Homo sapiens: one gene and its partners. The protein of the gene in region 3 interacts with the protein of the main gene of each other region in a biochemical or structural test. Each region holds a gene or a part of one and is shown on either strand. Other genes may lie near its edges.

Region 1 (8,114 bases), on a different chromosome or scaffold from region 3:
CCAGCAAACCCTGTTCTCAGTGGGCTCTCAGGGGCCCAGCCTAACTCCCCTCTGGGCCAAAGTCCTCTAGGCCTAAGGGGGTCGACAGCTGTGGTAGCCACAAGAACCGCTCGACTGGGGAGAAGGGCAAGAAGGAAAAGAGCAGAGACAGGATAAAAAGGAAGGGGACAAAAAATGGGATGGGATAACAAAGAAAGGAGGAAGGAAGCCCAGCATGGTGGCTCACGCCTGTAATCCCAGCATTTCTGGAGACCAAGGCAGAAGGATAGCTTGAGCCCAGGAGTTCAAGACCAGCCTGGACAACTTAGACCCCATCTCTCCAAAATGAAACTTAGCTGGGCATAGTGGTGTGCACCTGTAGTCCCAGCTACTCAGGAGGCTGAGGCAGGAGGATTGCCTGAGCCTGGAGAAGTCAAGGCTGCAGTGAGCCATGTTCACGCCATTGCACTCCAGCCTGGACAACAGAGAGACCCCGTCTCCAAAAAAAAAAGAAAGGAGGAAGGGGAAGACATCTTTATGGGACACAGCTATCCTCAACCCAAGAACCCAGGAGGTGTGAGGCATGTCCTACGCCCCAGTGGCTGAGGACACTTCAAGAAGTGGGCAGGCACATGGCCAAGGCCCTGGTCTGGGGCCTCCGAAGTCCAGGACGCCCACTCTCTGAATTGGCGCCCTGGACTCTGAACTTCACATCATCTGCAGATATGTGCAGCCACTGTATGCCAGAGAGCTGTCCCAAAGCCCTCAAACAACTTTCAAGCCATCAATTACTCCTGGGAGACCACTGAAGGGGAATCAGCCTAGATCCCCTACACCCCACAGCCAGGGGAGACCCAGGGCTGTGTCTATCAGGGTTGCCAAGAGTTGACAGGAGAGGGGCAAGCAGTGACTAGAGCAGAAGCTGTGCAAGGACAGAAAGGAGATCACCTGCTCCTCTGCCTGCTTCGGGGTGGAGAACACTTGGGTGGTACAGGTGCCATCCCATTGTGTCGGCTCAGCTAGGGACCAGTCACCCAGATAACACCTGTGCCCACCCCCTCTCCCTCCTCACCAACCCACACCCCTGGTTGGGGTCCCAGCTGGCCAGGGCCTGGCAGCTGCTGGCTGCAGCAGGGGTGGGAGGGGTGGGCGGAGCCCATGCAGGTGGTTGGGTCTGGAAAGAGAGCTCAGCCACCTCCTCACTGAGTCAGCCCATTGAGCAAGAGTCCAAAAGTCCTTCCGAGTTTCTGTCTGGAGCCTATCCTGCCTCCTCAGAGCGCGGGGCCGCAGGGTGGGGGAGGTGAGCTCCACCCCTCCTCAGGCAGCCAACACGACAGAAAAGTCGGCCTTGGGAAAGCTGGTAACAAAGCAAGGCCAACAGGGAGAGGGGACTGCTGTCAGCCAGGTCCCTGGTGATACCTCTCCACCCATCAAGATGATAAGAGCAGGACGATCAAGAACTTTTATAGACCTACATAAACAACACAGCAACCACAGGCAGCAACAATCAAACACAAAGCCCTGAAAGCAACATGTACCTTGCACTTTGGAATTTCAATTATTCAAGGAAGTCTAGAGAATGCATGGGAGAATTATTTTTTTTAACTTTATGGGAGGCCTTTGCAAACATGCCAAAGTTCTGAAAGATTGGCCATATATTCTGGAACCCCACCCCGCAGGATACTTAGGATGACTATTAGCTCTGCACTGTCCATCTGTCCCAAACTCTATCCCTCGTAGAGATAAGAACAGGACAGAGGAGCAGGCAGCTCACCCCCACCCCTTCCCACCCACCCTAGCCATCCTCCCACCCTCCCCAGAAGCCAAGAGCAGGGTGCAGCCAGAGGTAGGAAGCAAGGTGGTCTCAGCTAGCATGCTGAGTGTGTCTGCTTTGCACAGAGGAGGAAGTAATGTGGGAGGGGAAGCCATTAATTAGTCACGCTTGCTAATTAATTATTAACCACTAAGTAGTTGCCTTGGAAAGTTGGGCCAACTCAGCCCCTGCTTCTCAGGGGCTCTGAGACTGTTGCAGAGGAGTGGGGACTTACAGGGACAGAGGGGTACCTTAGCACGCCTCCCGTCTCCGCCAGCTTCCCCTTCTCCCAGCTCAGCCCAGTCTCTGACTGCCAGCATCAAAGGGGAGGCACTGATCTTCCCAGTGGTCCCAGCCTGATGCTGGGTCCTCTCTGGGATGACTTGCTGCCCCAAGTAGAGCAAAGAGAACAGCGTCAGATGCCCAGAGCCCCTGGCTGTGGGCTCAAGGCTTGGTTCTGCTGCGGTCTGTACTACCTTGGGGAAGTCACCAGGCCTCCCGGGGCTTCCTTTCCTCCTGTGCACAATAAAGACTGCACAGTGTCTAAAGCCTTTCCAGGTCCCCGGTCTGAATCTCGACCTCTTGGTCAATGTCAGGCCAAGAAGGAAACCCGTACAGCCACATAGCGGACCCTCACATCTGCCTCTGCCGAGGCCGCCCTCCACAGCTGTAGGGAACCTGCCCCAGAGTCAACAGGTGAGAGCGAGGGCACCACCCCCACCCAGGAGGCTATGAGTCTTAAGTGTCTAAGGCATTGCTTTTAGATAAAGGCAGTTCAGGTAACATCCCCACCCCCTCCCTAACACAGGGATCCCTCCTGGGCCTCTTCAAGCTCCAGTACTGGGCCCTAAAAAGCAGCCCACCCGGCTGAACAATGTCCCCAGAAAAAGGCAGAGGAGACCAGAAGGGGCACAGAGGGAGGGAGGGAAACTCCAGAGCACCTTCCCTCAGGCCGGGCCATGGGGGATCCTCCTCTATCCCAAGTGTGTCCCCCAAAGCCAGGTCTCAGGCCTGCCTGTCCCAGCTCATCTCTGCTTGCTCTCCCTCTGGTGGAAACTAAGGCCTAGGCAACCACAAGAACAGGCTCCCGTCCAAGCCCACCAGCACCCCTCTGTCATCCCTACACACCAGACATAGGCTGGCGGGGGTGGGGGTCGGAGGGGGGTGATGGCCACTGCTTGGGCTCCTCCACTCCCAGGCCAGCCTGCTCTCAGCCCCAAAGACCCATTCCACCTCCCCCGCCCTCACCTGCTTCTGGGCTTTAGTCCAGGAGTTGAAAAACAGCCCCTGCTTCCAGTCAGGGGGCTCAGGGCCCTCACATGTCGCCTCAGGGTCTCCCAAGCCACAGGCCTGTGCTCTCTCTCCAGCTGACGGAGCTGCTGGCCGTCCGTCCGTCTCGGCTCACCTGCCTACCTTGCCGTCCCTCCCAGGCTGCCGGGCCAGGGGAACCAGGTTACTTGTTATGACTTGAGTCAGAGGGGAGGAGCAGGTGAGCAAGTCCTTCCCTGAACTAATCCCGTGCAACTGGTGCCAGCAGGCAGCTCCTGGGCCTCTGCACTTCCGGGGGGCAGGAGGGTAGCAGGGAAAAAGGGGCTCCCATGGAGGAATCCCCAAAGAAGACAACAACAAGAGTCATGTCTTCATGGCCTCAAGAGACCCTAGTACAACATTCTGAGCTGTGAGGTACCTGCGTGCCCTCCTGTCCTGACCCTGGCTCTCCCTGCCTTCCTTTGACCTCAGTTTCTCTTTCCAGAAATTGAGGCCTGTTAAGCACCCCGGAAGCAAGGTGAAATGTCCACTGTCCATGGAAAAAACAAGCAGGACATTTACAAACTGACAGGGATGGGTCACTGCTCTTCCCCACATATGGAAATGAAGACCAAGGCCTGGGTTTTATCTCTCCCGAGTGAGGATTTTAAAACCTCAGGCAAGGCAGCTGGAATTCCAATATGCAGAAGTTCTAGAATCCTAGAGAGAGAGGATCAGGCTGTTCTTTTTATCCCAGACATTGTCCCCCAAGGGTATCGAGGCCATCACTTCTCTGTTGATTATTTACATCCATCCCCCAGCAACGCATGTTCATGGGGCACTGACAGGCACTGACCTGAGCCCAAGTCCTGTTTCCTACTCCACAGGAGGTCCACTGTGACCCCAGACCCTAAGTCCACTCCCCAAATGCAAGGAGCCAGAGACCAAAATGGAACTTATTTCCTATAAAAAATAAGCCTCAAGATCTCCCATCCCACCGACCCCCAAGCAAATGGGAAACTGGAATCTAGCCTATTTCAAGGCGGAAGCAGAGCTAACGCTGACTGTTGCCTGGCCTGTCCCCAGCAGGCTGCACCCCTCAAGTCTTCATCTTACCACCTCCCTTTCCCCCCACTCTCTGATCTTCCCACCATTCCCCCGACCCAGATTCCAGTGCCTCAATACATGTCTGGATTGCTTCCCCTCCCCCAGCCCCTAAAAAGTCCTGTCCCCACTCCCTACCCCCAAGTGCAGGGATGACAGAGGAAGTTTGCTTTCACCAGGCATCTCCTGTGGAGCGGAACTCATGGGGCTGGAGTCCCCCAGCATCCCCCACTGCTCCGGTACACACACCCAGCACACCTTCACATTCCTGTACACACCCTTTTTCCAAACAATGCTAGCCCCAGAGTGCTCCAGGCTGACCACCTCATTTTCTGCCCAGGCTGAGGCTGAGGGGCCCTAAGAGGGGACAGTTCTTCCTCCCCCCGCCCCATTGGGAGCTTGTTCTCTGGGTCTCCCAAAGAGCCTGCAGCCCTGCCCTTCCCCAGTCCTCCGTGACACACCGTCCCTCCCCATAGAGGCTTGGCACTTTCTTACAAAGTCAAACAGAGAGGGGTTGACTCTGGGCATAAGCGGCCCTTCCTCCACCTTGCCCATCTCCAGCTCCAGGTGGGGGTTGGTGGAAGTTTCTACCAGCTGTGAATTGGCTCACAGTTCACATTTCTTGAGCATAAAATAAAATTAAGAAGATCACTAAAAAAGTCAATTATATGAAATAAAGTTCTAAAAATATAAAAACATAGCAATATATATGCTTCTTTATTAACATTAAGCAGGGTCTAGCAGTGGGTAATTTCACACAAGGGCTGAGTGTAAACAACATTTCAAGACTGCTGTGACTGCAGTGTGATATGAAACTATGAATTCTATTAATGGCAAAGTCACAGGTACTGCCAATGCTACTGTGATTTGTTGTCTTCATAACTAAAGGTGATGTTAAAATCTGTTAAAGGTTGGTGAAAAACAATGATATCTTTTTTTGCCTCACCTAGTTTACACATCCTCTGAATTCCATCTACAGATGCCTAATGCCAATGAACCCAGTTAAGAATCCCTGCCCTCAGGTAATCCTCCATCTCTGACTTCAGGGGAGGTTAGTACAGATGCTCAATCTCACTGTTTGCATTGATCCTTTGGAATTCTCAAAAACACCTTGCTCCCCCAAATTCACGCTCAATATTTCCCAACCTTGCAGAATCTGAGGTTTGGAAGGGAGCTGGCTAACCAAACCTCCTGCCAAGAACCCCGGGGAGCCATCCTTGGAGCTCTCTGATGGCCATGTCATTCAATTCAAAATACCAATGGGGGAGGTGGGCACTCCAGAGGCCAGCTGGGAATCTGAAACAGCTCCCCACTCCAGTCAGGCCGGGGAGTCAGGGGACTGATGCCCCAGCCCCAAACCCCAGAGTGCCGTCCAGACCACCAGTTGGTGAGGAAGTGGTATTTCCTTGCAAAACATTATAGTACTTGGAATCTGATCTTTGCAGACAAGAGCCCTTCCCCAGGGAAGAGAAACTGGACCTCTTCAGTGTTTTCGTTTCCTGAGGAAAAGTCCCGAGTCAGAAAACTCTTCCCCAGCGCTGTAGCCATCCACTCTCCATTTTTTTTAAAAAAAAGTTCCTTCTTTTAGGGTCTTCTGATAACACCAGATTGGAAGTTCTTTAAAGCAAGGGCCTCGTCCTACCATCTTCACATCCCCAACAGCCCCCAGCAAAGTAGTCTCAGGCACTGCTAAAATCTTACTTCAAGAATTAAGGAATCAATGGCCAGCGCTAGAGACAACAGTGAAAAAAGGAAGAAGTGAAATAGCCCGGGACCCTCCAGGCAAGAGGGGTAGGAGATGGTTCCTTCACTGTTTTCTTACTCGCGTCTGCTCCCTGCTCACTAGGAAAGGTGTTCGCCTCCACTAAGCAAAGGTGAAGTGGGCTGGGACAGGGGAACTCCAAGCCAGCTTGGAATGCGCCCTGAAATGAGACCTCTAGGCTTTCTCTAAAAAGCCCCTTTGTCCTGTCCACCCTGCTCCCCTCCCCCACTGCGCCCTCCACATCCAGGCTGGCCCGAGACTTTGCTCCTTTTGTTTGGCTGCTTTCTGGCTTCCCGGAACCTGGCCAGGAAGATCCACAGGCACGAAGAAGGTCGAAGGAGAAAGGTTGAGGGACTGGAAATGTGCATTTTTGGTAGGAACTCAGAATTCCTGCCCCTTTGAAAAAATTACCCCATTCCCTGTAGGGCACCCTCCGCTAAGGCTGAAGACCGTGGGTTCAGGGGCCCGATCCCCCGCCCCAGTTCACCCGCACTGGGTGCCCCGAAGTTTTCCCGCTTACCTGTCCCATGGAGCTCTGGCGCCGCCCGCCTGCCCCTGCGCCCTCCACTCCAGCCTCGCAGCTTCAGGACCTGTTTGTCCAGGCCATCTTCCCTCCCCCCGAGCCTCCCTGCGGCCTGCCCTCCCCGGAGGTATTTCATTTAACTTCGGCATTTGCAGCATCCCAAATGTTAAAGATCCCAAGACATCTGTCCCCTGGGGCATACCAAGGCCCAGAGGAAAGAGGGGAAGACGCAAGAAGGGACTGAAGAGTCCGATCCAAGAGTCGGGACGGGGCCGCACGCGGGAGTGACGACGTACCCGCAGGGGTGAGCGAGCTGCGGGAGCAGCCGCTCGAGGGGCGAGGCTGTCCCCTTTGCCCCGCTTTCGGACGCCCGCGCGGTGGGACACCCCTGGCGCCGCCAGTTTCCGCAGCCCAGGCGGGACGAAGCTTCTCTCTTGGTCCCAGTGCCGCCTTTCATTCGCGCGCTCTGGCCTGGCTGGGGCCAGTTTTCATTCCTGGAGACCCCTAAGTGGAAGAATGAAAGGAGCCTGCGGAAGGGCGCTCCCCCGACCCTGTCCTCCCCGCAGGCGCCCTCCCCCTCGCTGTGCGGCGCTGCGGGTCGCGCGGGGATGGCCCCTCTCCCCGGCCCTGGCCCCGGCCCACTCCCACTCCTCCCGCCGGGCCCGCTGGCTGAACTCCGGCTGGCTGAAGGGAAGGAGCACCCTCCCGGCGAGCGCCTCCTGCTGCCCGCTGCGAGCTGCTGTGTCCCCGTTCATCCATTCATTCACTTCCCGGTTTTCAGTTGTTCAATAAACATTTATTGAGCACCTACTAGTGCCCAGCACGATGGATCAAAGCTCAAGCCCCATTCACTGGAGGATTCTCCAATCTAGACGAGTGATGAAGCAGCACAGTACCTGAAGTAAGGGCTAGGACCCCGGGCAAGAAGAGGGAAGGCTGACCCAGGCTGAGCCTCGGCAAAACTTGGCCAGAGGAAGCAATACCAGAAAATAAGAGAGGGACTTGAAACAGCAGTGACAGGTGTACAAAAGCACAGCAGCAAGGGAGCACAGCAGGTTCCAGGAGCTGCAGGGAGGTTAGGGTTTGGGATGAGGAAGGAGTAAAGGGAAAGAACATGGAAGAGAGACGAGGCTAATTCGTCAGTCAGTGGCTCATCCAGAAGCAGGGCAGCCAGACGCAGAGGCTCACGCCTATAATCCCAGCACTTTGGGAGGCCCAGGCCAGAGGATCGACTGAGGTCAGGAGTTGGAGATCAGCCTGGGCAACATTGTGAAAACCTGTCTCTACCAAAAAATAAAGAAATTGGCCAGGAGTGGTGGCACGCACCTGTAGTCCCAGCTACTTGGGAGGCTGAGGTGGGAAGATCACTTGAGCAGGGAGGCGGAGGTTGCAGTGAGCCAATATCCCGAGACTACACTCCGGCCTGGGAGACAGGGCAAGACCTTGTCTCAAAACAACAACAACAACAAAAAACCCACAACGAACGGCCAGGCGCGGTGGCTCACGCTTGTAATCCCAGCACTTTCGGAGGCCAATACGGACGGATCGCCTGAGGTCGGGAGTTCAAGAATGGCCTGGGCAACATGGCAAAACCCCATCTCTACTTAAAATACAAAAAAAATTAGCGAGCATGGTGCTGGGAGCCTGTAGTCCCAGTTACTCAGGAGGCTGAGGCATGAGAATCA
Region 2 (7,110 bases), on a different chromosome or scaffold from region 3:
CATTACAGGATGAGGAAACCGAGGCTCCCAGGTGGGGAAGTTACTTTTTTTTGAGACGGAGTCTCGCTCTGTCGCCCAGGCTGGAGTGCAGTGGCGCAATTCGGCTCACTGCAACCTCCGCCTTCCCGGTTCCAGCTATTCTCCTGCTTCAGCCTCCGGAGTAGCTGGGACTACAGGCGTGCGCCACCACGCCCTGCTAATTTTTTTGTATTTTTAGTAGAGACGAGGTTTCAACATGTTGGCCAGGCTGGTCTTGAACTCCTAACTTCAGGTGATCCATCCGCCTCAGCCACCCAAAGTGTTGGCATTATAGGCGCGAGCCACTGGGCCCGGCCGGAAGTGGCTTTTTACTTTTTCAAGTCACTCTACTAGTGAGGAATGGAAGGATGGGACTCACGCACTGAATCTCAGTCTGGTGTTCCAGCATGTCCTAAGGGCAACCTGTCTCTCCAGTGTCATCCCCATTTTTGGTCCTTGTTTTTCTCCTTTAAGTTCCTCCTCTCCAATAAAGGCCTGAGAGTTCTATACTACTCAGACACTGCCTAGAAATGCAGGGTTTGTAGGAATTCCTGGCCAACCCAGTATCAACAGAACCCCCAAGGGCCCAAGGGCCCAAGGACCCCAGGCTGGGAAACTCCCACGCTAAGGGTGGAGGTTTGGTTCTCCTACTCAGGGAGCCCTCTGAGTACATTTATTCCATCATGCATTCATTAATTCACACAAGATTTTCTGACTGCCTATGTGTGCCAGGCATGGTGCTGGGCATGGTAGAGCTACAGATAAGAACCAGCTGCTGCCCTTGATCACGTAGTCTGGTGGAGGAGACAGCTCTGAGGAAGAATGATGCTTATCTGACTCAGTGTCACTTAAACCTTGGCTCAGCGTCGCCGCTTTGAAACTTTCTCCTGCACACTCTTCCACCAATCTAAAGTAGTTCTCCAGCCACATGTGGTGGCACGCACCTGTAATCCCAGCTACTCAGGAGTCTGAGGCGGAGGATCTCTTGAACCGAAGAGTTCAAGGCTGCAGTAAGCTATGGTCTCGCCACTGCACTCCAGCCTGGGTGACAGAGTGAGACCTTGTCTTTAAAAAAAAAAAAAAAAGGCCGGGCGCGGTGGCTCATGCCTGTAATCCCGGCACTTTGGGAGGCCGAGGCGGGCGGATCACGAGGTCAGGAGATTGAGACCATCTTGGCTAACACGGTGAAACTCCGTCTCTACTAAAAATACTAAAAATTAGCTGGGCGCGGTGGCGGGCACCTGTAGTTCCAGCTACTCGGGAGGCTGAGGCAGGAGAATGGCATGAACCCGGGAAGTGGAGCTTGCAGTGAGCCGAGATAGCGCCACTGCAGTCCGCCCTGGGCAAAACAGCGAGACTCCGTCTCAAAAAAAAAAAAAATTATTTTTATTTTAATTTTGAAAAAATAGGGAATGCTTCATGAATTTGCAAGTCATCCTTGCACGGGGCCATGCTAATTTCTGTATCGTTCAAAAAAAAATGATTGCTTAATGTACAAATGTTCAGATGTTCTCTGCAGGGATTAGTGTAAGCCCATAGCTTAGTGCTACCTGGACGAGCTGGGCCCCTTTTTTTACCCCTCCCCAGCCCCACCTTCTCCTTCCCATTTGTTCATTAACACCTTCTCTGGCAAACATGAAAGACGGAAGGGTGGGGTAGGATTGTCAGTTTCATTTCCTTTATCAGATAAGTGACAATTTCTGTCTTGGATGTGAGTCCCAAGACAGATTATAGGAGCCATGTTAAAGAAGCTTCAAAGATTGTGGAAGAAACAAGACAACTTGTGTATTTTCAGTTTTTGTGTGTTTTCAGTCTCATAGCCATTGTAACATTTGTTCAAAGCCAGGTTTGGCCAGTTTCTAGCTGGATGACCTTCAACAAATTACCTAACCTTTCTGTGCTTCAGTTTCTTCTTTTTAGACTAACCATACTTACTTCATGGGCTTGACTTGTGTATTAAAAAAGGAAAAGTAAGCAAAGTTCCTAGACCAGAGCCTGGCATGCAGTGGCCACTCAACAGTGCAGTGGTTCTCAACCGCTGGGCCTGCTCCGTCTTCCCCTCTCCTAACTTCACCATGCTCAGGTCTGTCTCCTGTACGTTAGCTGCTGCTGCAACCTGTCACCCTCCAACTTGGGGTGTAACAAACTAATTTCCTAAGGTCTTAATCTTAGACTAATTTCCTAAGGTCTTTAGGGATTTGGGGAGGCTCCCTGCATTGCTGGGGAAACCAGGTGGCTGGTTTTGTAGTGGAGGGGAGAAAAAGGAGGTGGCAAAGCACACTGGTGACAAACAGATGGGAAGCTTATTTATCAGCACTTGATTGAGGAGGGTGGGCAGGAAAAGGCTGGGCCGTGCTGTCTGGCAATGACTTCCCTTCTCCTTTTTCCAATCCCTCTCACACATAGCCCTTAAAAAGATTAATACTGAATTACACAATAAATAAAATAATCCACGCCTGTAAATCCCAACACTTTGGGAGGTCGAGGCGGGCGGATCACCTGAGATCGGGAGTTCGAGACCAGCCTGACCAACATGGAGAAATCCTGTCTGTACTAAAAGTACAAAATTAGCCGGGCGTGGTGGCACATGCCTATAATCCCAGCTACTCGGGAGGCTGAGGCAGGAGAATTGCTTGAACCTGGGAGGTGGAGGTTGCAGTGAGCCGAGATCGCACCATTGGACACCAGCCTGGGTAACAAGAGCAAAACTCTGTCTCAAAAATAAATAAATAAATAAATAAATAAATAAATAGATAAAGTTACAATTTACAATTTCATTCTTCTTTGATTGGCCCTCTTCTCTCCCCCACCTAATTGCTGTTGTCCTTTTGGTCACACTGCCCTTTGTGACATCTCCTTCCTTTCAGGGCTGCCCAGACTGTAGCAGGCTGCAGTGGCTGGGGAGACCCTACTCATTCCTGTGCCCCTCCTAACCAGTCCTAGATAGGGCTAAAGAACGTCTATAAACCTTTTCAGAAGCTTCCAGTTGACACATTCTCTCTCTTCTCTGAAATCCTACAAGTGCTATCTCATGATTTACAAAGACCCAATACATGTGCTGTCTCATTCTGTCATTGCCAGTCTTAAGTCTTAAGCCCTTTGAGGCCTGATTCTACAGCCGAGACATCCTCTATTTCTCCACCATCTCTCTGTCTCATTCAGAGCACACAGTATGAATGAGGTCAATAAACACAGTGTTTTTTGTTTTGTTTTGTTTTGTTTTTGTTTTTTTTGAGACAGAGTCTTGCTCTGTTGCCCAGGCTGGAGTGCAATGGTGTGATCTCAGCTCACTGCAACCTCCGCCTCCCGGGTTCAAGTGATTCTCCTGCCTCAGCCTCCCGAATAGTTGCAATTACAGGCGCCCGCCACCACACCCAGCTAATTTTTGTATTTTTAGTAGAGACGGGGTTTCACCATGTTGGCCAGGCTGGTCTCGAACTCCTGACCTCAGGTGCTTCGCCCACATCGGCCTCCCAAAATGCTGGTATTACAGGCGTGAGCTACCGTGCCCAGCCCAATAAACACACTGGTTTTTTTTTTTTGTTTGCTTTGTTTTGAGACAGAGTCTTGCTCTGTCGCCCAGGCTGGAATGCAGTGGCGCTATCTCAGCTTACTGCAACCTCCGCCTCCCGGGTTCAAGCGATTCTCCTGCCTCAGCCTCCCGAGTAGCTGGGATTACAGGCACCCGCCACCACGCCCGGCTAATTTTTGTCTTTTTATTACTGATGGGGTTTCACCCTGTTGTCCAGGCTGGTGGAACTCCTGAGCTTAAGTGATGTGCCTGCCTCAGCCTCCCAAAGTGCTGAGTTTACAGGTATGATCCACTGCGCCTAAACATACTGTTGAGTGTAACCTCAAATAGGTCATTTAACCCTTCAGGGCTTTGTGTATCTGTAAAAGGCAGACAACAGTCCCTAACAGGCTATTGCAGATAATGGGCTTAGCACTATGAAGCAGCTGTTTTATGGGGCTCCAGGTTCACCTTAGGTTTGACAATTGAATTATGAAAGATAAAGGAGAAAGACTTGTCAGCCTCTCCGAGTAGATCCTTTGGCCGAAGGAGTGTCCATGTGGGGTGGTATCTCGGCCTGGTGGAGGGGGATGCGATGGTAGTGAGAATATTAGGGTATTCATATCTTTCCTCCCGAGTCAAACGTTGCCAGGCACGTTCCTTTCGCCCCTCCCACCCTCCATTCTGCATTAATTCCAAGTTTAATTCCAAATATTAGAGTGTGGTAGAAAAGGTCAAATAGAGCAGCCACGGATTAAGCAAACGCCCCTCCGCGTATGGTGGGGGCTGCAGCGCCCGTAGCTCCACGCTCCGCCCCGCCGCCGCTGATTGTCCCGCGCCTTGTGACGTCACACGCGGGTTTTTAAGGCCGAACCCTAGGCAGGCTCTGCAGAGGCAGCGGTTGGAGGCGCGGTGGGTGTCTGCGGGGGTCTCGCGGGGCGGCTGCGGTGTTTCACCGGGAAAGGCTCGAGGAGAGCGCGGCTCACGAGAGGTAAACGGACCCTGCAGACCGTGCTGAGGCGGTCCCGGTGCCGGGCCGCTGGAGCTGGGGTCGGCCATCGGAGGAGGGCGGGCGGGCAGGAGAGTGTCGCGGGGCGGTGGGGCGAGGGTCGCGGAGTAAGGAAGGGCACCGTGTCAACGGCTTGGGGCTGCGGAGGGCGGGTGGGAGCCGGACTCAATCTCCGGTCTCAGCGTCTGCACCCTAGCTCTTAGTTTGGGGGCACTGTCGACTTCCCCCGTCCCTCGGGGATCTTGCCTGGGGGATGGCGCCATAAGCTCTGAGAAGAGGCTCTAGAAGCCCACTGTCCATGGATCGAGCCCTCACCCCCCACTTGAGTGGCCCAGGACCTGGGAGTCTCTCTAGGTCCCATCGCCCCCCTCACGACCCCCCCAGGGAGTGGGGGAACACCTCTGTTATGCCTTAAAAAAAAAAAAAAAAAGGAAAGGAATTTTAAAAATGAAGGATGGGAGGGTGATTTAGGAAGGGATCAAGAAGTTGCAAATCTTGTGTGTATTATTAAACGTCTCCTTTTTCTCCCATGACCTTTTCTTGGTTCAGATAACCCAGCTGTGCTCCCTGGAACCTTCAATTTCAAGGCCTCCCTGCCTCTACTAGGCGCCTTAGCTCACTATGGGGAACCACTTGACTGAGATGGCGCCCACTGCCTCCTCCTTCTTGCCCCACTTCCAAGCCCTGCATGTCGTGGTCATTGGGCTGGACTCTGCTGGAAAGACCTCCCTCCTTTACCGCCTCAAGTTCAAGGAGTTTGTCCAGAGTGTCCCCACCAAAGGCTTCAACACCGAGAAGATCCGGGTGCCCCTCGGGGGATCGCGTGGCATCACCTTCCAAGTGTGGGACGTCGGGGGGCAGGAGAAGCTGCGACCACTGTGGCGCTCTTATACCCGCCGGACAGACGGTCTAGTGTTTGTGGTGGACGCTGCGGAGGCTGAGCGGCTGGAGGAAGCCAAGGTGGAGTTGCACCGAATCAGCCGGGCCTCGGACAACCAGGGCGTGCCAGTGCTGGTGCTGGCCAACAAGCAGGACCAGCCCGGGGCACTGAGCGCTGCTGAGGTGGAGAAGAGGCTGGCAGTCCGAGAGCTAGCAGCCGCCACTCTCACTCATGTGCAAGGCTGCAGCGCTGTGGACGGTCTGGGCCTGCAGCAGGGCCTTGAGCGCCTCTATGAGATGATCCTCAAGAGGAAGAAGGCAGCTCGGGGTGGCAAGAAGAGACGGTGACCCAAGCCCCCCCTCCCTTTCCTCCCACCTAGTAGGGGTCTGCACACTTGGACAGCAGGGTGGGACCAGCCTGTGACCTCTCAGTCAGACTGGGGTGCAGGACCTGTCCACCTCAATGAAGGAGAGAGGAGCATGGGGTGTCCCGTTTTGGTGCCACACTGGGGTGGGGATGGGAGATGGGATGTCTTTGCATATCTCTCTCATCCTCTCTGGAGAAGTGGGCGCTGCAGGACTGTGGAGACGTAAATGTAAACTGTGACTCTACCTCGACCCTGTTTCTTATTTTTCTTCTCTGGCTAAAAATTTTTAATTGGATGTGTTTGGGGGCGGGGGGATGGAAGTGACTTGGAGAATGTGTTTGGGATGAAATAACTATCTCCCCTTCCTCTGTCCCCCAACTGGGGAGTCTCCCCAGGCTGCTTTTCTAGGAATACCAGTCACATAGTTTTTATTTTTGTGTCTGTGAAAGTGCCAAGAACCCCTCCCCACATTTGTAGATCCATGACCCTTTTTATAAGCTGTGTGTGTCCTCTGTATTATTGTTATTAACTATTTTTTAGCATTTGCCTGTAAGTTATTAAAGACTGATAACTGTAGCTCTTACCTTGGTCTGGGGCATTTTCCTCTCCTTATCTTGCCCCAGAGACAATTCAAGATTTCTATATGGGGTTGTGGCGCAGGGGGAGGGAGATTTATCTTGAAGCTGAATTTGCAAAGCAAGCACTTATAAAAATTAGATTGTGTGTTACGGGATGGCTTGTGAAAATTATAGGGGGGAGTGGAAAACCCCTCAAGCTATTGCCTGATCTCTGTAGTTTTTTGGGTGGGGTCACTTCCTTTTTCTCTGATTTAACACCCCTCCCCTCATCCTCTGGGTCTTACTTGTCCCTTATATCAACTGCTCCTTGCAGATTTAACTTCAAATTTTGCTAGTCTGAGCTACTCCTAGGTTCTTGACCTTGGTGACACCTAAGTCTATATAGGTAAGTCCTCAAAGAGCCATTCTGTTCCCATCCTCCCCACTTCCCCAGTCTTAGGTTGGTTTGATTTTTTTCCTCCTTGTAAGATGTGGTGAGAGTGGAAAGTAATTCCTCCCTGGCCTTAAGTCACCTCTGTGTACTCAATCCTGCTGACTGGCTCACTGGCATGATGGCAGCGGCTGGTGCTAGGGAGGCCTGGGCTGGATTGAGCCAGCCTGGCCCTGGTGACTAAGCCATGAGTTTTCCAGCTCTGGGAATGGTAGCTCTTCTCACGAGAGGGGCAGAAGTAGTAGCTGTTTGTGCTTGGTGGCAGAGAGGACTGCTGGACATACACCCTCCAGACTCCAAGATAGAAGGGGGAAGAC
Region 3 (7,242 bases):
GAGTGGGGTGGCTTTCTGGCCCTCAGCACTGAGACCTTGTCCCCACCCACCAGGGGATCCAGTTCTTGGTGGAGAATGAACTGCTGCAGAACACACCCGAGGAGATCGCCCGCTTCCTGTACAAGGGCGAGGGGCTGAACAAGACAGCCATCGGGGACTACCTGGGGGAGAGGTACGGTCACCACTCAGCTCCTGTGGGGCCCCTCCCTCCCACCCCCCAGACCCAGCTCCTGCCCTCACACTGGCAGCTCACAGGTGGAACAGCCCTGCAGCCTCCCCGCAGAGGGGCCCTGGCAGATCAGCCTTCTGACTGGACTGTGACAGAATGGACTGACATGGGCTAGGGGAGCCTGCGGCCAACCGAGAGCATCTGGGGATGTGGGGCCTTCTGGAATTACCTGGCAGTTGTGGGGAAGCATCCATTTATGTCTGAGAAGGGTAGAGAACATCTCTCAAGGATCATGGGAGCTTGAGAACCGTGGGTAGACCATGGCTGTGCATAGGCACTGGGTGGCCATCTGGGAGCTGTGGGGACCGCTGGGCCCTTGTGGGAGCTTAGGAGTTGTGGGGGTCATTTGGAAGCCTAGGGTGCACAGGACTGGACATCAGATGATTGGAGGCCATCTGTGGACGTCTGGGAATCAGGGATTTATAGAGATCTGGGGTGCTTGGGAAGCATCTCTGGATGTCTGGGGGATGTGGGGGCTGTGTCTGGATACCTGGGGAGCATGGGGATCATTTGAGAGAGGTGACAGTAGGTAGCATACATGTTTGCGGCATTTCTCCCAACTGTACAAAGGTCTGGCCTAAGCAGGGTTCCCAAGCCAGATATTCCTCCCAAGAGTGTGTTCTGAGCATCCCCCACCCTGGGGGCAGGCCTGTGTGGGAGTCCAGCAGGAAACTTCACCCTCGGCAGTGGGCAGCTGTGGTGCAGTAGAGGGGGCACGACTTCCCCAGGGCATTGCCCTTTGCCCATTCCTGCCCCATCCTTTCCAAACTGTATGTGTCTTTGTCCCATCCTTCCAGGGAAGAACTGAACCTGGCAGTGCTCCATGCTTTTGTGGATCTGCATGAGTTCACCGACCTCAATCTGGTGCAGGCCCTCAGGTGAGTGAGGGGGAGGGGTTTGGAACGCCAGGAATGTACCTGTCAGGGCCTTCCTAGTTACAAGTGACAAACCTTACTCAAGAAAAAAACAGAAACAAGCAAAACAGAAACAAAAACTAGGGAACTGAGTGTGTCCTGCACCATAAAAGTTCAGGGTTATGGCCTCCTTCAGGTATGGCTATATCCAGGAGCTCAAATGGTGGTCAGAAAGTCGACTTTCTTTGCCTCTTGTATTTGCCACTGTGTCAGCATTGCTCTCTGCAGACCCGCTTACCTGATAACAAGCCTCAACCAACCCCCAGACCTGTCTAGCGAACTTAGCAGAAAGAGGCTATTTCTGTAGGGATTCACAACACTCCCGTGGCCAATGCCCATTGGTGAGACTGGATCATGTGACCATACCTGAAACAACTGCTGAGGCCGGAAGGTCGGGATTCCTCGTGGACCAGTTCCTAACACAGGGACTGAGAGTGGGGACAGGCTCCCACCAGCCCTGGCATCCATTCCTGGCCCCTCCCCAACCCAGGCAGTTTCTATGGAGCTTTCGCCTACCCGGAGAGGCCCAGAAAATTGACCGGATGATGGAGGCCTTCGCCCAGCGATACTGCCTGTGCAACCCTGGGGTTTTCCAGTCCACAGGTGCGGGCCCCAAATCCTGGGTCCTGGGAAAGAGGAGACTGGGGCCCAGACTCCTAGGTCTGAGGGAGGGAGGGGGCTGGGAGCTGGGAATCCTGGGTCCTGGGGAATGGGGGCACTGGGGACTGACATGCCTGGGTCGTCACCACCTGCCCTGTCCGGTGCAGACACGTGCTATGTGCTGTCCTTCGCCGTCATCATGCTCAACACCAGTCTCCACAATCCCAATGTCCGGGACAAGCCGGGCCTGGAGCGCTTTGTGGCCATGAACCGGGGCATCAACGAGGGCGGGGACCTGCCTGAGGAGCTGCTCAGGGTCAGTCCCCCTTCCCTGCCCCTCAGCCCTGCCCCTCTTCCTGCCACAGACACCCCCGCCCCACCTGTGGTCTCCTAGTGCCCAAGCTGTCTGCCCTCACCCCCAAGATGGTGCGATCATGCCAACTCGTGTGTGATCTTTTTCTCTCTCTCTGGGTGCTTCTCTTCTTGACTGTCTCTCTCAGGCTTTGGCCCTGACAATTTTGGCCTGTCTGTCTTCTCTGTCTCTGGCTGTTGGGCTTTCCGGCCCTCGATTGGCCTCATTCCCCATCTGTCTGTTTCTCTGAGGACGTAGCCGGCTCCTCCACCTATCACCAGGGCATCTCTTCTTTCCTCCGCCACCTCAGCCTCCCTCCACTTCTCTGCCTTTCACTTCCCTCTCCTCCCCACTACCCCTCTCTCTTCCCCACTATGAGTCATCCCATCCCTGGTCTCGCTGCCCCCCACCCTGAGTAACCCTGGGGGGCCCCAGGGGGCTCGAATGGCTAATGCAGCCTTTACTCCTCAGAACCTGTACGACAGCATCCGAAATGAGCCCTTCAAGATTCCTGAGGATGACGGGAATGACCTGACCCACACCTTCTTCAACCCGGACCGGGAGGGCTGGCTCCTGAAGCTGGGTACGTGCCCTCCCGACCCCGCTGGTCCCTCCGCAGGAGGACATTTGTGGGCCTGGGCCCTGGACTCAGCTTCCGCACACACCTGCTGCCTGAACTGAGGCAAATGATTCGACCTCTCTGAACCTCAGTTTTCCACACCCAAAAAATGGGGCTGAAAATAAAATCAGGCCTGTGTGCTGGGCCTGGCCTGTAGTAAGTACTTCCCAACCCCTTCTCTTGACCCACAAATGTTGATGGAGCCCTTCTGTGCCAGGCCCTGAGCTGGGCTGAGGAGGCAGTGAGAGGCAGCTGACATTGTCCTTTCGTGGGAGAAGAGTTCACTCAGGCTTCTTTCCACTGCGTTAACCCAGCCCGAGGGAGCCAAACCCCTGGAATCTATTCCCCTTGGCAAGAACTCCCAGGGTTCCAGGCAGGACTGACCCCGCACTCCGAGGCATCAGGCCCAGAGCACTTGGCTGATCCAGGTGCCATCCTTCCCGAAACACCACCCACAGGCAGAAAAGAGCCAAACAGGCCAGGAAACCTGTCCCAGATTCTGGCTTCCAGCTGTGGAGGGAATAGCCAGGGCTGGTGCAGATGAGTCGGGAAACCCAGCAGAGATGGAGGGGGGAGTCTTCGTCATAACACGTGGCACTGGCACATTCAAGGTCGGTTAGCATGGATCAGACAGGATCGTAGCATGATGAGGGGTTAGCACAAGGACTAGAGTGGTTCTCAGCCCTGGCTGTACATGAGATTTGCCTGGGCAACTCGAAAACTCCGGTGGCTGGGCCATAGACTCCTGAAGTCAGGCTCTCAGGAGCAGAAGGGCCATCAGTCATCGTTTAAGCTCCTCGGGTGCTCCCAATGCATAGTCAAGGTTGAGAGCTACTGGCCTGGAGCCGTGCCTGGTAACAGTAGGTGCCACCTGCGTGTTAGATGTGGTTTATAATGGAGACACGGTGCACAGCTGCTCCAGAGAGACACATCTGGGCAGTTACAGTCCAGCACAGCAGTGGAGGCTTCCCGCGGCAGCAGGAGAGCCCACAGGAAGCTTTCAGCTCAGTGAAGGGAGTCAAGGTCAGGCTTCTTGGAAGGAGGTTGGACAGGGCAGCTTTGGCCTCTGAGTCTTGGGGGCCTCCCCATGTGGAACTGTGCTCTTAAACCAGGGCATCACCACCTCAACAGATGCCAGGGTTTCCTGGTAAATGTAAAATACACAAGTCAGGCAGGGCACAGGGGCCCACCCCTGTAATTTCAGCACTTTGGGAGGACAAGGCAGGAGGATTGTTAGAGGTCAGGAGTTTGAGACCAACCTGGGCAATATAATGATACCCCCCATCTCTACAAAAAATAAAAAAATTAGCCAGGCATGGTGATGTGGGAGGATTGTTTGAGCTCAAGTGGTCGAGGCTTCAGTGAGTCATGGTTGCGCCACTGCAGTCCAGCCTGGGCAACAGAGCGAGACCCCGTCTCTATAAAATAAAACATGCAAATCACTGTCCAGCCAACACCCCAGTCCAGATCCCTGCATTCGATCCAAGGGAGGCAGACTGCTGGGGGAAATTGAGAGTCCTCGAGGTGCCCCTGGCAGTGAGCGGGCCAGAAAGAGAAGCAGGAAGGCGCCAGCATCACGAGGAACTGCTTCCCTCAAAACTGCTGTCAGGCCAGGCACGGTGGCTCAGGCCTGTAATCCCAGCACTTTGGGAGGCTGAGGCAGGCAGATCACTTGAGGTCAGGAGTTTGAGACCAGCCTGGCCAACATGGTGAAACCCCGTCTCTACTAAAAATACAAAAATTAGCCGGGCGTGGTGGCAGGCACCTGTAATCCCAGCTACTTGGGAGGCTGAGGCACAAGAATTGCTTGAACCCAGGAGGTGGAGCTTGCAGTGAGCCGAGATCACACCATTGCAAATCCAGCCTGGACGACAGAGCGAGACAGTCTCAAAAAAACAAAACAAAACAAAAACTGCTCCTGTGAGCAGTAACTTTCCCATTTCCCAGAGGCTCACGCCTCAGTTTGGTTCTGAGCCCCACCTAAGGCTGCCCAGCCCCAGGGACATCTCTGACCAAAGGGCCTCTGTTCCCTTTGTGCCAGTTAGAGGGACCCCTTCCTTAAAAGATGGAAATACAGGAGTGGAGATTGGTGATGGTGGTTGCTACTCCATGCCTAATAAAAGCCATTCTTACTGTCATTGTTTAACCCTGGGCCCACAAGGAAGCCAGCAGCAGGTCATTTTGCCACAGGAAGGTGTAGGCCCGAGTGAGTCTCCAGGCTGGAGTCCAGAGAGTCCAAGAGAGTGCCCTGAGGTCACACAGCCAGTTTGTGCAGGAGCTGAGATGGGCCCTCACACCCACCTCAGACCAAGGGCTGGGGGTTTTGCCTTCTGTCCTGTGGGGGCCTCCTCCAGGGCAGAGGCACTTTTACCATGTCAAGGGAGGATGCTCCTGGCCTAGGACAGACCCTAGGGGGTAGGCTGGGGCCCTGTACCGAAGCAAGGGGTTTTCAAGGCTGCCACCCGGGGCTCATGGCCCTTGGCCTCTCTGGGAGGGAGGAGCCCCGGCCATCCCCACCCTCGTGGATGTAACTGGTTTTCTTCCCTCTCTCTCCCTCCCCTCCTCTCTGCGTCTTTCCCTCTCTCCTGTGTTTGCCTCTCTGTCCTGCCCCTGCGCACCCCTCCCTGTGCCCACCCTGTTTCTGTCGCCTGCGGCTCTTGGGGGTGCTCCATTCTCCCGCCTTCCCTTCTCCTGCACCTGGTCCTGCCTGCTTTCTCGCTGTCTGCCCCAGGAGGTAGGTACACGACCTGTCTTTGTCTCCCATCACTAGACGAGGGGAGGGGGCTGCCCTGGCGCCCTGGCGCCCTGGCCTCCTGCCCACAGGAGGAGGGGGCTGGGGGCTCAGGCTCCTGGGCTGGGACTGACAGACTCAGAAAATGTGGAGCCCCAAGCTGGGGGTGGACGATTCCTGGAGCCCCAACATGCCTGGCCCTGCTTGTCTGTCTCCCCCAACGCAGCGGCTTTGTCTAGGCCCCAGGAGCCCCACCTCTACCGCTCTTGCTCTGCTTCTCACGCCCCTCCCATCTCCCAGAGGCCCTGTCCCCCTGTTGAGCCCAGGCCCCCTCCCACCCCTTCCCTTTCAGGGGGCCGGGTGAAGACGTGGAAGCGGCGCTGGTTTATCCTCACAGACAACTGCCTCTACTACTTTGAGTACACCACGGTGAGCGTGACCCGACCCGGGCTCTGGGGTCCTGGGCGGAGTGGCTGGGAGCCTGGACTCCTGGGGCTGAGGGAGGTGGGGTGGGGTGAGGACTTGGAAGTCTGAGTTCTGTCCACCTTGCTTCTTCAGGACAAGGAGCCCCGAGGAATCATCCCCCTGGAGAATCTGAGCATCCGAGAGGTGGACGACCCCCGGAAACCGGTAAGACCCTCTCTGTACACCTTCCTGCCAGGGCGGGGCCTCCTCTGCCCAGGGCTGGTTCTTACCTGCGCCCTTCCTCTCTCGTCCCCAGAACTGCTTTGAACTTTACATCCCCAACAACAAGGGGCAGCTCATCAAAGCCTGCAAAACTGAGGCGGACGGCCGAGTGGTGGAGGGAAACCACATGGTGTACCGGATCTCGGCCCCCACGCAGGAGGAGAAGGACGAGTGGATCAAGTCCATCCAGTGAGCCTGGACTCCTGGGCCTGATGGAGGAGGGGCTGGGGCCTGGACTCCTGGGTCTGATGGAGGAGGGGCAGGGGCCTGGATGCCTGGGTCTGATGGAGGAGGGGCTGGGGCCTGGACGCCTGGGTCTGACGGAGGAGGGGCTGGGGCCTGGACTCCTGGGTCTGACGGAGGAGGGGCAGGGGCCTGGACACCTGGGTCTGACGGAGGAGGGGCCGGGGGCCTGGACCCCTGGGTCTGACGGAGGAGGGGCCGGGGGCCTGGACTCCTGGGTCTGACGGAGGAGGGGCCGGGGGCCTGGACTCCTGGGTGTGAGGGAGGAGGGGCCGGGGGCCTGGACTCCTGGGTCTGAGGGAGGAGGGGCCGGGGGCCTGGACTGCTGGGTCTGAGGGAGGAGGGGCCGGGGGCCTGGACTCCTGGGTCTGAGGGAGGAGGGGCCGGGGGTCTGAGACTCCTCCTGGGTATGAGGGAGGAGGGGCTGGAGGCCTGGACTCCTTGGCCCTCATCCTGGGACCCCTCCCCTTCTGCAGGGCGGCTGTGAGTGTGGACCCCTTCTATGAGATGCTGGCAGCGAGAAAGAAGCGGATTTCAGTCAAGAAGAAGCAGGAGCAGCCCTGACCCCCTGCCCCCAACTCCATTATTTATTACGGAGCTGCCCCGCCTGGGTGGCCGGACCCCTGGGCCTTGGGGCTGTGGATCCTGGTTCCCTGTTTGGAAAATTCACCACCTCTAGCTCCTCACTGTTCTTTGTAATTAACACGCTGTTGGTAATCTTATTAATTATTTAACCACTTGGCCTGCTGACCCCCTCATTTCTTGGGGTTGACAGAGTCGAGGTGCTCCGTGGAGCCAGCCTGTTTCCCTGGACAGGGGCCTGGACCCGCCTGTCTCTGGGTGCTGCCTGGGCTGTCCCGGTGGGTC
Region 4 (7,242 bases), on a different chromosome or scaffold from region 3:
GAATCCAGGACGGTTGATTTCAACAAGGAAGATATTAGGGAGGGATTTCATTTGAGGAATTCCTGATTCGCTGCTTTGATGAGTACACTGAATGTTCTGGTTCCTTCTATCATTTAAACAAACCTATCTAGAGGAGATTATAAGATGTATCCATTCACAGTTTAAAGATCTACTAATATTTTTAACTAGTTTATGGAGGAATAAGTATTTTGAAATGAAAATCAATGTAAAATTGTTTTCAAAGTAAATTTTAGTTCAAGGCTTGATACCATTTTAATGGAAGAGGATTTGTTTGACAGGGATAAAAGTGGGTACCCTTGCATTTGCTCATGTAATTATTTACTTTTGTGTATTAATAATATGGAGACATTTAAAAAGACAATTAGTGGGTACCTGACTAGATGAAAGTATGGCAGTAAAATTTGGGCTATGTTGATTTATATTCGGCAACTATGCCAGTCTTCCAAATTTATTCCGTATGCTTATATATTATATATTTTTATTTTAACTTTAGAAACGTGAACCCTGAAATCTACCACTATAAGAATATTACATTAAATTTTGAATTATTTTCTTGTTGTCTTTTAACTTATTCATTCTTTGAATTCATTTATGTTAGTGTTTGACACTCAAAACTTACTCTTTGTATTCTATGTAGATATACAAGAGCATACTTCATTTTAACTTGGTTAATGTTTTTATATATTTTGTAGGTATAAAGCACATATTTTCTTTAATTGATTAATTTTCATGAATATTCACTAAATATTTCTGTTGGTGGTACATAGATAACCTCATTTAATATAATTTGTAAGTCTGTGTAATACAAGTGGCCTTGAGTGCCTGCTTCATGTTACATATAGTTATCCTGAAATTTTTTTCAGTTCCTAGAAGAAACATTTTTTTCCTGTTAACCTGTTCTTATTTTACACGTTTTTGAAGTCTTTTACTCTTTAGATCTTAATTATCAAATAGGAAGACTTAGTAAACCCCTTTAATTGATTGAATTATCGCTATTGAAACAGGCAAAGTTTAGGCCAGTCTTTTTTTTTTTTTTTTTGAGATGGAGTTTTGCTCTTGTTGCCCAAGCTGGAGTGCAATGGCGCGACCTCACTTCACTGCAACCTCCGCCTCCCAGGTACAAGCGATTCTCCTGTCTCAGCCTCCCAGGTAGCTTGGATTACAGGCATGCACCACCACGCCCGGCTATTTTTTTTGCATTTAGTAGAGCTGGGGTTTCAACATGTTAGTCAGGCTGGTCGCGACAGGCCAGTCTTAAATGGAAGACCTTAAATGGTCTTGGTCTTCTGAAATGAATTTTATATATGAGCACAGATTTTCTTCCTGTTGTACACTGCAAACATATGAGAGTAGAGGTTGTGTCTGTTTTGCTCACTATTAAATCCCAGCTTCAAGCACAGTATCTAACTCGTAGAATGCTCTCAATAAATATTGGCTGAGTAAATGAATTTATTTATTACCCTCCTGCTGGAAATTAGACCAGACAATAATGAATAAATGTATAGAAACATAGGAATATATAATGTTTTTATCTGTGGCAGATAAAATCAGGATCTTAAAAAAATTGTGTGTAACTCTTTGAGCCAACTGATTATAAATGCATTCCAGGATAGGAAGTGTTAATGTAAGATGTTGCATCACACATTGAACCAGTGTATTACAGTTCTGTACTGGATGTATTTGAGAATGGTAACAGTCATGCTTAAAGTATGAAAGTTTAAAGAAAAGAAAAACCATTCTATATTTTTATTACTTTTTATTGTGTAGAGGCTAGTTTAACCCTCTCATCTTTTTACCATACATTTTTCTCCATGGTACAGGGCTCAGTGAATTTTTAATACTCTGTAGAGCACAGGTGATGACTAAATGGGTGTTTGTGATTGACTTATACAATAACGTGAGGAAAACCACCATAATTAAATACAGAATTTCAGGAATTGCAGTTAGAACATTTTTAATATGAAGGATATGCATTTGTACTGAAAGCTATACAGTTTTAGACCAAGAAGGGGCTTGGAAGGCTGGAAGTGCTGTAGCCAATTTAAGCTGTATGGGAAGTTAATTTCTACACATCTGGAAAAGAGCACGCTTCCCACTGCTCCTCAGTAGGGTTCACTGGAGTGGGTATGTTGATTGCCTGAATTAACCTAGAGGTCAGTGCCATCTAGGATGGTGACTCAGAACCATTGAGTGAAAGCCTTGGTCTAAGTAACCTCAATAACAGCAGCTCCCTAAAAATAGCAAAATATGGTGTTTATGAGACTGCTTTAAGGACCAACAGGTTTTATTTTTTGCTACTCTTTTAGCTTCCAAGTGTTGAATATGTTTCTGAATGTCAGGATTTATTTGGATACAGTTCCCTTTTTTGTTGTTGTTGAAACAAAGTACTTATAGTTTATATCAGAAGAACAAAGTGGGAACATCCCTCATAAAAATCAAAACTGTGGCTCTGACTGTATAACAAAGCCTTCGGAATAAGTTTTTTGCATTGAACTACGTAGATTCATCGTCTGGATCTCCATATAATGTCCCATCCTTACCCCTATATGCTATTTCTTCATATGGCAAATCTGACACAAATTAAAACCCTGCTGAACAGTGAAAATATTGCAGGTTTATCTATTCACATATTCTAAAGTAAGTTTAGAAAGGAGAACCAGAAGACTAATTTAGTAGCCATTTTAATATAAATAAATTTGATAGAATCTTTTTCATTAAAAAAGAAAACCATCTCAGCTCTACTTTAGGAGAAATGGCTTATGTTCAGTTTTCAGAAGTGCCTATTAAAAACAGTTACGATTTTTATTACCCATGAATTTTTTAGGACCTGAAACAGCCTTTGCAGTTGTGAGGCTGCGTGCTATGCTAAACTTAGCAGAAAAAAGGAACAGATTTTTCTTTATGATCCAGGCACACTTACACTTGAAAAGAAATTAACAAGATTCTCTAAGGAAGGTTTTGATTCCAGCATTCATATTAATTTTTCTTTAAGGGGAGTTATTCTACTAATATTCTGTTAATATTAGTAGAAATGTTGATTGGATGTTGTAGAGGGAAAATAGGGAGCTCAAAGGGTACATCTTGGAAGAGACAGAAGCCATTTTATAAGGAGGTTAGGATTGCTTTCTCCCTCAGAAGGTGGAGGGAATCTGTTTCCTCTGTATTGGGTTGAGGAAAATACAAGTTTGTGAAGCAACAAATTTTAAAGTCAAATTTCCTGGTTGGAACGGGAGGCAGTCACATTTTTCAAAGGAAAACTTTTGTAATGCCTTTTAAGTTATGTTAAGATCTCTGCAGACTTAATCCTAGTGAAGTGTGAAATAGCAATAGAAGGTAAAATGTGCGATTGTTGGTAATTAAATCTGTGGCAATAACTGACTACAGTAAACCGTGAACGTTTACTCTTGTTCTGCCGAATGGAGTAACATTAAAGAAAGAGCTGCTCTCAGACCCAAACACTATTTTGTGTGAATAGCTGTTACTGATAAAATTATAGGAAGTTGTTCAACAATCACCTTTGATTTGTTACATTACCGATATGTAAAAAATAAAATTATAGGAAGTTGTTCAACAATCACCTTTGATTTGTTACATTACCGATATGTAAAAATCTGTCTGATTTCTCATCTAACATGTAGTAAAAGGACCTAGGCATACTGATGAAATGAGTTAACACATCCTAGGTGGTCATGAATTTGGGCTTTAAAAACAAAAATAAATGTCCATGTTGCAGTGCCGAGAATCCCAAATTGGATTAACTATACAGCTCTGTTGTTAACCTTTATACATAGCCATAATCAGTGCAGAATATTTTGTTAAAAGCCTTTATGGTTAATTTTAAAGAACAAAATTAGTATTACTTAAAAATCAAATTATGAAGATATCTCAAATCCATTTTTTCAACATATACTTGTCAGTTATTAAAAAATATTTCCTCTAATTTTTTTTTTTAACCAGGCATAACTTAAGAAGGAACAGTTTCATGCAGAATGCTAGTCAAATGAACAAATATGAGCACCTACTATGTGCCAAATAATGTGCTGTGTGAGATGCTCCTTATGTCTTATTTGCCGACAGGAAAGACTAAGCACTTTGCATAGTTCTTGTATTGTAGCTGATGTCCTCGTACTGACATGCCCTTCTGACTTTATCCTTCCTGGCTTTGGCTTTTCTATTGGGTTTTCATACACAGAAAGAGACAAAATAATCTGAAGGCCATTGTAGGAGCTTCCTGGGGATCACAGGACTGGGGAATGCGGATGATTTTACCTTGTGTTTCTAAGTGGATTGGAAGCTCCGTGAAGGCAAAGATCCTTGCTCTTGTATCTTTATCGCAATTCCTGATGATTCTATTATCAGTAACTAGGGATGTGTGTGGAAAGCTGGATTCCAAAAAGAATGGAGGGTAATCGGAAGAAGTGAATTTAAATTCCCTGCTTTCTTCTAATAGGCATCATCCATATGTCCTCCATTTTCCACTCCTCTTTGCTGTTTTGTGGGCCACCGGGCGCACAGTGAAAGGAATTCCGTTTTAAAGATGGAACAGTTTTTGCCTTCTTGCCTTCCTCTCATTTGTTCTCTTGGGACAATGTTTCGGTTGAACATTCTCATATTGTTTCCAGTTAAAAGCCAATAGCAATTGATCCAGCTGTTCCAATGGAAAGCTGTTACACACACAAGTTCTTTGAAATCTGACAATCTGTGCACCTTTATTACAGGATTAATCATGGATTGTGAACAATATGTCTGCTTTAGAAATAAAATAGTTGTTTTCAAGTAATGGATTGTGGTGCAGTTGGGAACGAAAATGTTACTAATGCCATTATAGTGTGTGTGTGTGTATATACACACATATACAATATGTGTGTGTTTATACACACATAATTGACCCACAAATTAAAGAAAAAGAGATCTAGCCAGACTTTTTGGCTCTGTTACCGGAAGCGAACAGTGATGTTTAGACACATAGTTACATATATTTCTAGGAGATAGCCTCATTTTTTTTCCCTTTGGAAAACTAAAATCATGAATTAATTGTGCTTTCCAAGAATTTTTTTTTTAATCAGCATCACTTGCTAAAAAATAGAAATAGAATTTTTTTGTTTCTTTTTTATGTTGAAAAATTTTTTTCATTTTTATTGTTTCTTTCCTACATTTTCTTTTACTGTAGGGGCAACAGGGTGATTGGTGAGATCTTCTACCACCATGTATTTACTGGTAACTGCAGGCATCTAGTTGCTTCTAAAGAGGAATGCTTCTGTGATTTACCCAGTCCCTTTTCAGTCTACCAGTGATTTCTGTAGCCCCCCTACCCATCCCTTTCATGTGAATACCACCCACCCATTTAATTCCTCATCACATCTTTCTTAAACAGATGCTAAAGAGGTTCCTCAGATTCTCTGACTTGCACATTTGCATACGATTTAGAGAACTTCCAAGTTGGTGCTTCTGTGAGACATCATGTGGCTGTGAGCTGGTGAGAGGGGAAGTTGGGTGCTTTAATACATTCAAAGGAAGGAATTTGTGAGTGTGTGTTTAGGCAATGATTAACTTTCTTTTGCAATACTTACTCTGGTCCGTAAAGCAAAAATAAATTGTTACTGAACACAATGTAAAATCCTCCTTCCTTTTCCAGAGGGCAGGGACTTGAGATTGGTTCATGATTACCAGCAGAGAGTTAGTGAGCCAGTGCTGGATAATCTATCACGGACCAGTGGGTTTCAGAATCGGATGCAGTGCGTATGCTGGAAGGGGAGAAGGTGCTGTAGGCATGTGTAGGCATCTTCCTCACTTAATGATTTGAAAACCCTCTTCTCAGTGACTTGCAAGCCTTAACATCTTTTTCTGATTGTATTTCCATACAGATAGTTAAGGGTGATGGCAATAGCAGTGGCCTTTACTTTTGTTATACCCAATCAGCCTGAGTACATTTTTGTGGTGGGTTTGTTTTGGTATTTTCTTGCCATGTGAATTGATATTTAGGACCTGCGCTTTGCAGAGCTCCTTCATTATAGTATGCGTTCTTTCTGCAGATGGCAAATGCAATTTTCCTCTTGTCCTAGAGAGATGACCCATTTCCTGTGACTTGTTCTAATAATACAAGATGACTTTAATTTTTGTTCAGTTTGCCTTTAAAAGATTGCCAGGTTTAACTCTCTTGTCTCTGTAACTCTTGTGATATATTTTTGAGCATTGGTAAGACATGTAATAATTTAAAAACAATGGCAGACTAATTTTGTGAAAGTTTTTTATTTTTTATTTTTGGCTAAATAAGCACCTTTTATGGCTGTGCATTTTGGATTCGTTACATATATCTTTTCTAAAATCTGTGACTGAAAGTGGGGTGAAGTATTCCTGCCCTGCTTACTGAATCTTTTTTTCCCACATAACTAACCTCAGGGTATTTTGATCATTTGCTTTTTCTATAAAAACCTGTAGAATGAGGAGATTGCAGCAGATGATCTCTAAGGACCATTTGAACTTTGAATTTTTTTCTCCTTCCCCTTTGCAGCTTTGGCGTCTCGGCCACTTTCTGCCCAAACTCACCCCTGGATGAAGGGTCTAAGCTTGCTGCTGTCTCCAGCAGTGATGGGCTCTACTAGGAGGCATTGCCAGGTCTGGTGGGCTCCTTCGGGTTGGCCTGGCTCTTCTCTTTGACCTCTGTAATAACTCTGAGTGCCCTGCAGTGGGGAGCACTTTGAGGGGGGCCTGTGAATGAAGCCTTAGCAAGTCTGTCCAGAGCTCCCCTGGTGCCGCCTGGCATGCTGCTGATAGTTTGCAATGTCTTCACAAGAAATGGTATCAGAAACCTCCTGTCATATCAGCATGGGTCTCTTGCTTCCTGCAGGAAGGGCGATATCCTGGGAGGCACAGAGGTGGAGCCCGAGAGACGCAGTGTTCCAGCGCTGCTCGGCTCAGGACTGGGTCTTTTCTTCCGTATCCTCAAGCAGCTTCCTTTGACTTACTACTTCTTTTTGTTTGTTTTTTCTTCATTGGGCTTTAAGCGTTGCTTCTCTTTAGTGTATGTGTGACTGAAGCCAAACACAACATTGCTTTCCCTTTGCCTGCAAATAATCTTGTTGCCCAAGCCCATCTCTGCCATTTTCAGTGACAGCTGGCTGGCCAATGAGCCTGAGCACTGGGAATGCCCAGCAGGGCACATCTAGGGGGCTGCTTTATATTTGGAGCTAGCAGGTCTCTTTTCTAGGGCTTTCCAGGAAA

What was found.
Region 1: the proteins of CYTH2 (region 3) and INAVA form a complex in vitro, tested with the Homo sapiens proteins (one study listed by BioGRID).
Region 2: the proteins of CYTH2 (region 3) and ARL4D form a complex in vitro, tested with the Homo sapiens proteins (one study listed by BioGRID).
Region 4: the proteins of CYTH2 (region 3) and GNAQ form a complex in vitro, tested with the Homo sapiens proteins (one study listed by BioGRID).

Annotation. Positions count from the first base shown.
Region 1 is NC_000001.11:200,890,014-200,898,127, reverse strand, and holds the start of INAVA (innate immunity activator protein), read right to left. Parts: upstream 3,229-8,114; 5' UTR 3,041-3,228; intron 1-3,040. UniProt on the Homo sapiens protein: Expressed in peripheral macrophages and intestinal myeloid-derived cells, is required for optimal PRR (pattern recognition receptor)-induced signaling, cytokine secretion, and bacterial clearance.
Region 2 is NC_000017.11:43,394,574-43,401,683, forward strand, and holds ARL4D (ADP-ribosylation factor-like protein 4D), read left to right. Parts: upstream 1-4,419; 5' UTR 4,420-4,520; intron 4,521-4,522; exon of another isoform or gene 4,523-4,579; intron 4,580-5,087; 5' UTR 5,088-5,159; coding exon 5,160-5,765; 3' UTR 5,766-6,564; downstream 6,565-7,110. UniProt on the Homo sapiens protein: Small GTP-binding protein which cycles between an inactive GDP-bound and an active GTP-bound form, and the rate of cycling is regulated by guanine nucleotide exchange factors (GEF) and GTPase-activating proteins (GAP).
Region 3 is NC_000019.10:48,472,272-48,479,513, forward strand, and holds part of CYTH2 (cytohesin-2), read left to right. Parts: intron 1-53; coding exon 54-172; intron 173-1,026; coding exon 1,027-1,107; intron 1,108-1,633; coding exon 1,634-1,746; intron 1,747-1,910; coding exon 1,911-2,059; intron 2,060-2,566; coding exon 2,567-2,678; intron 2,679-5,445; coding exon of another isoform or gene 5,446-5,448; intron 5,449-5,797; coding exon 5,798-5,874; intron 5,875-6,003; coding exon 6,004-6,075; intron 6,076-6,166; coding exon 6,167-6,321; intron 6,322-6,851; coding exon 6,852-6,939; 3' UTR 6,940-7,242. UniProt on the Homo sapiens protein: Acts as a guanine-nucleotide exchange factor (GEF). Promotes guanine-nucleotide exchange on ARF1, ARF3 and ARF6. Activates ARF factors through replacement of GDP with GTP.
Region 4 is NC_000009.12:78,021,570-78,028,811, reverse strand, and holds part of GNAQ (guanine nucleotide-binding protein G(q) subunit alpha), read left to right. Parts: intron 1-7,242.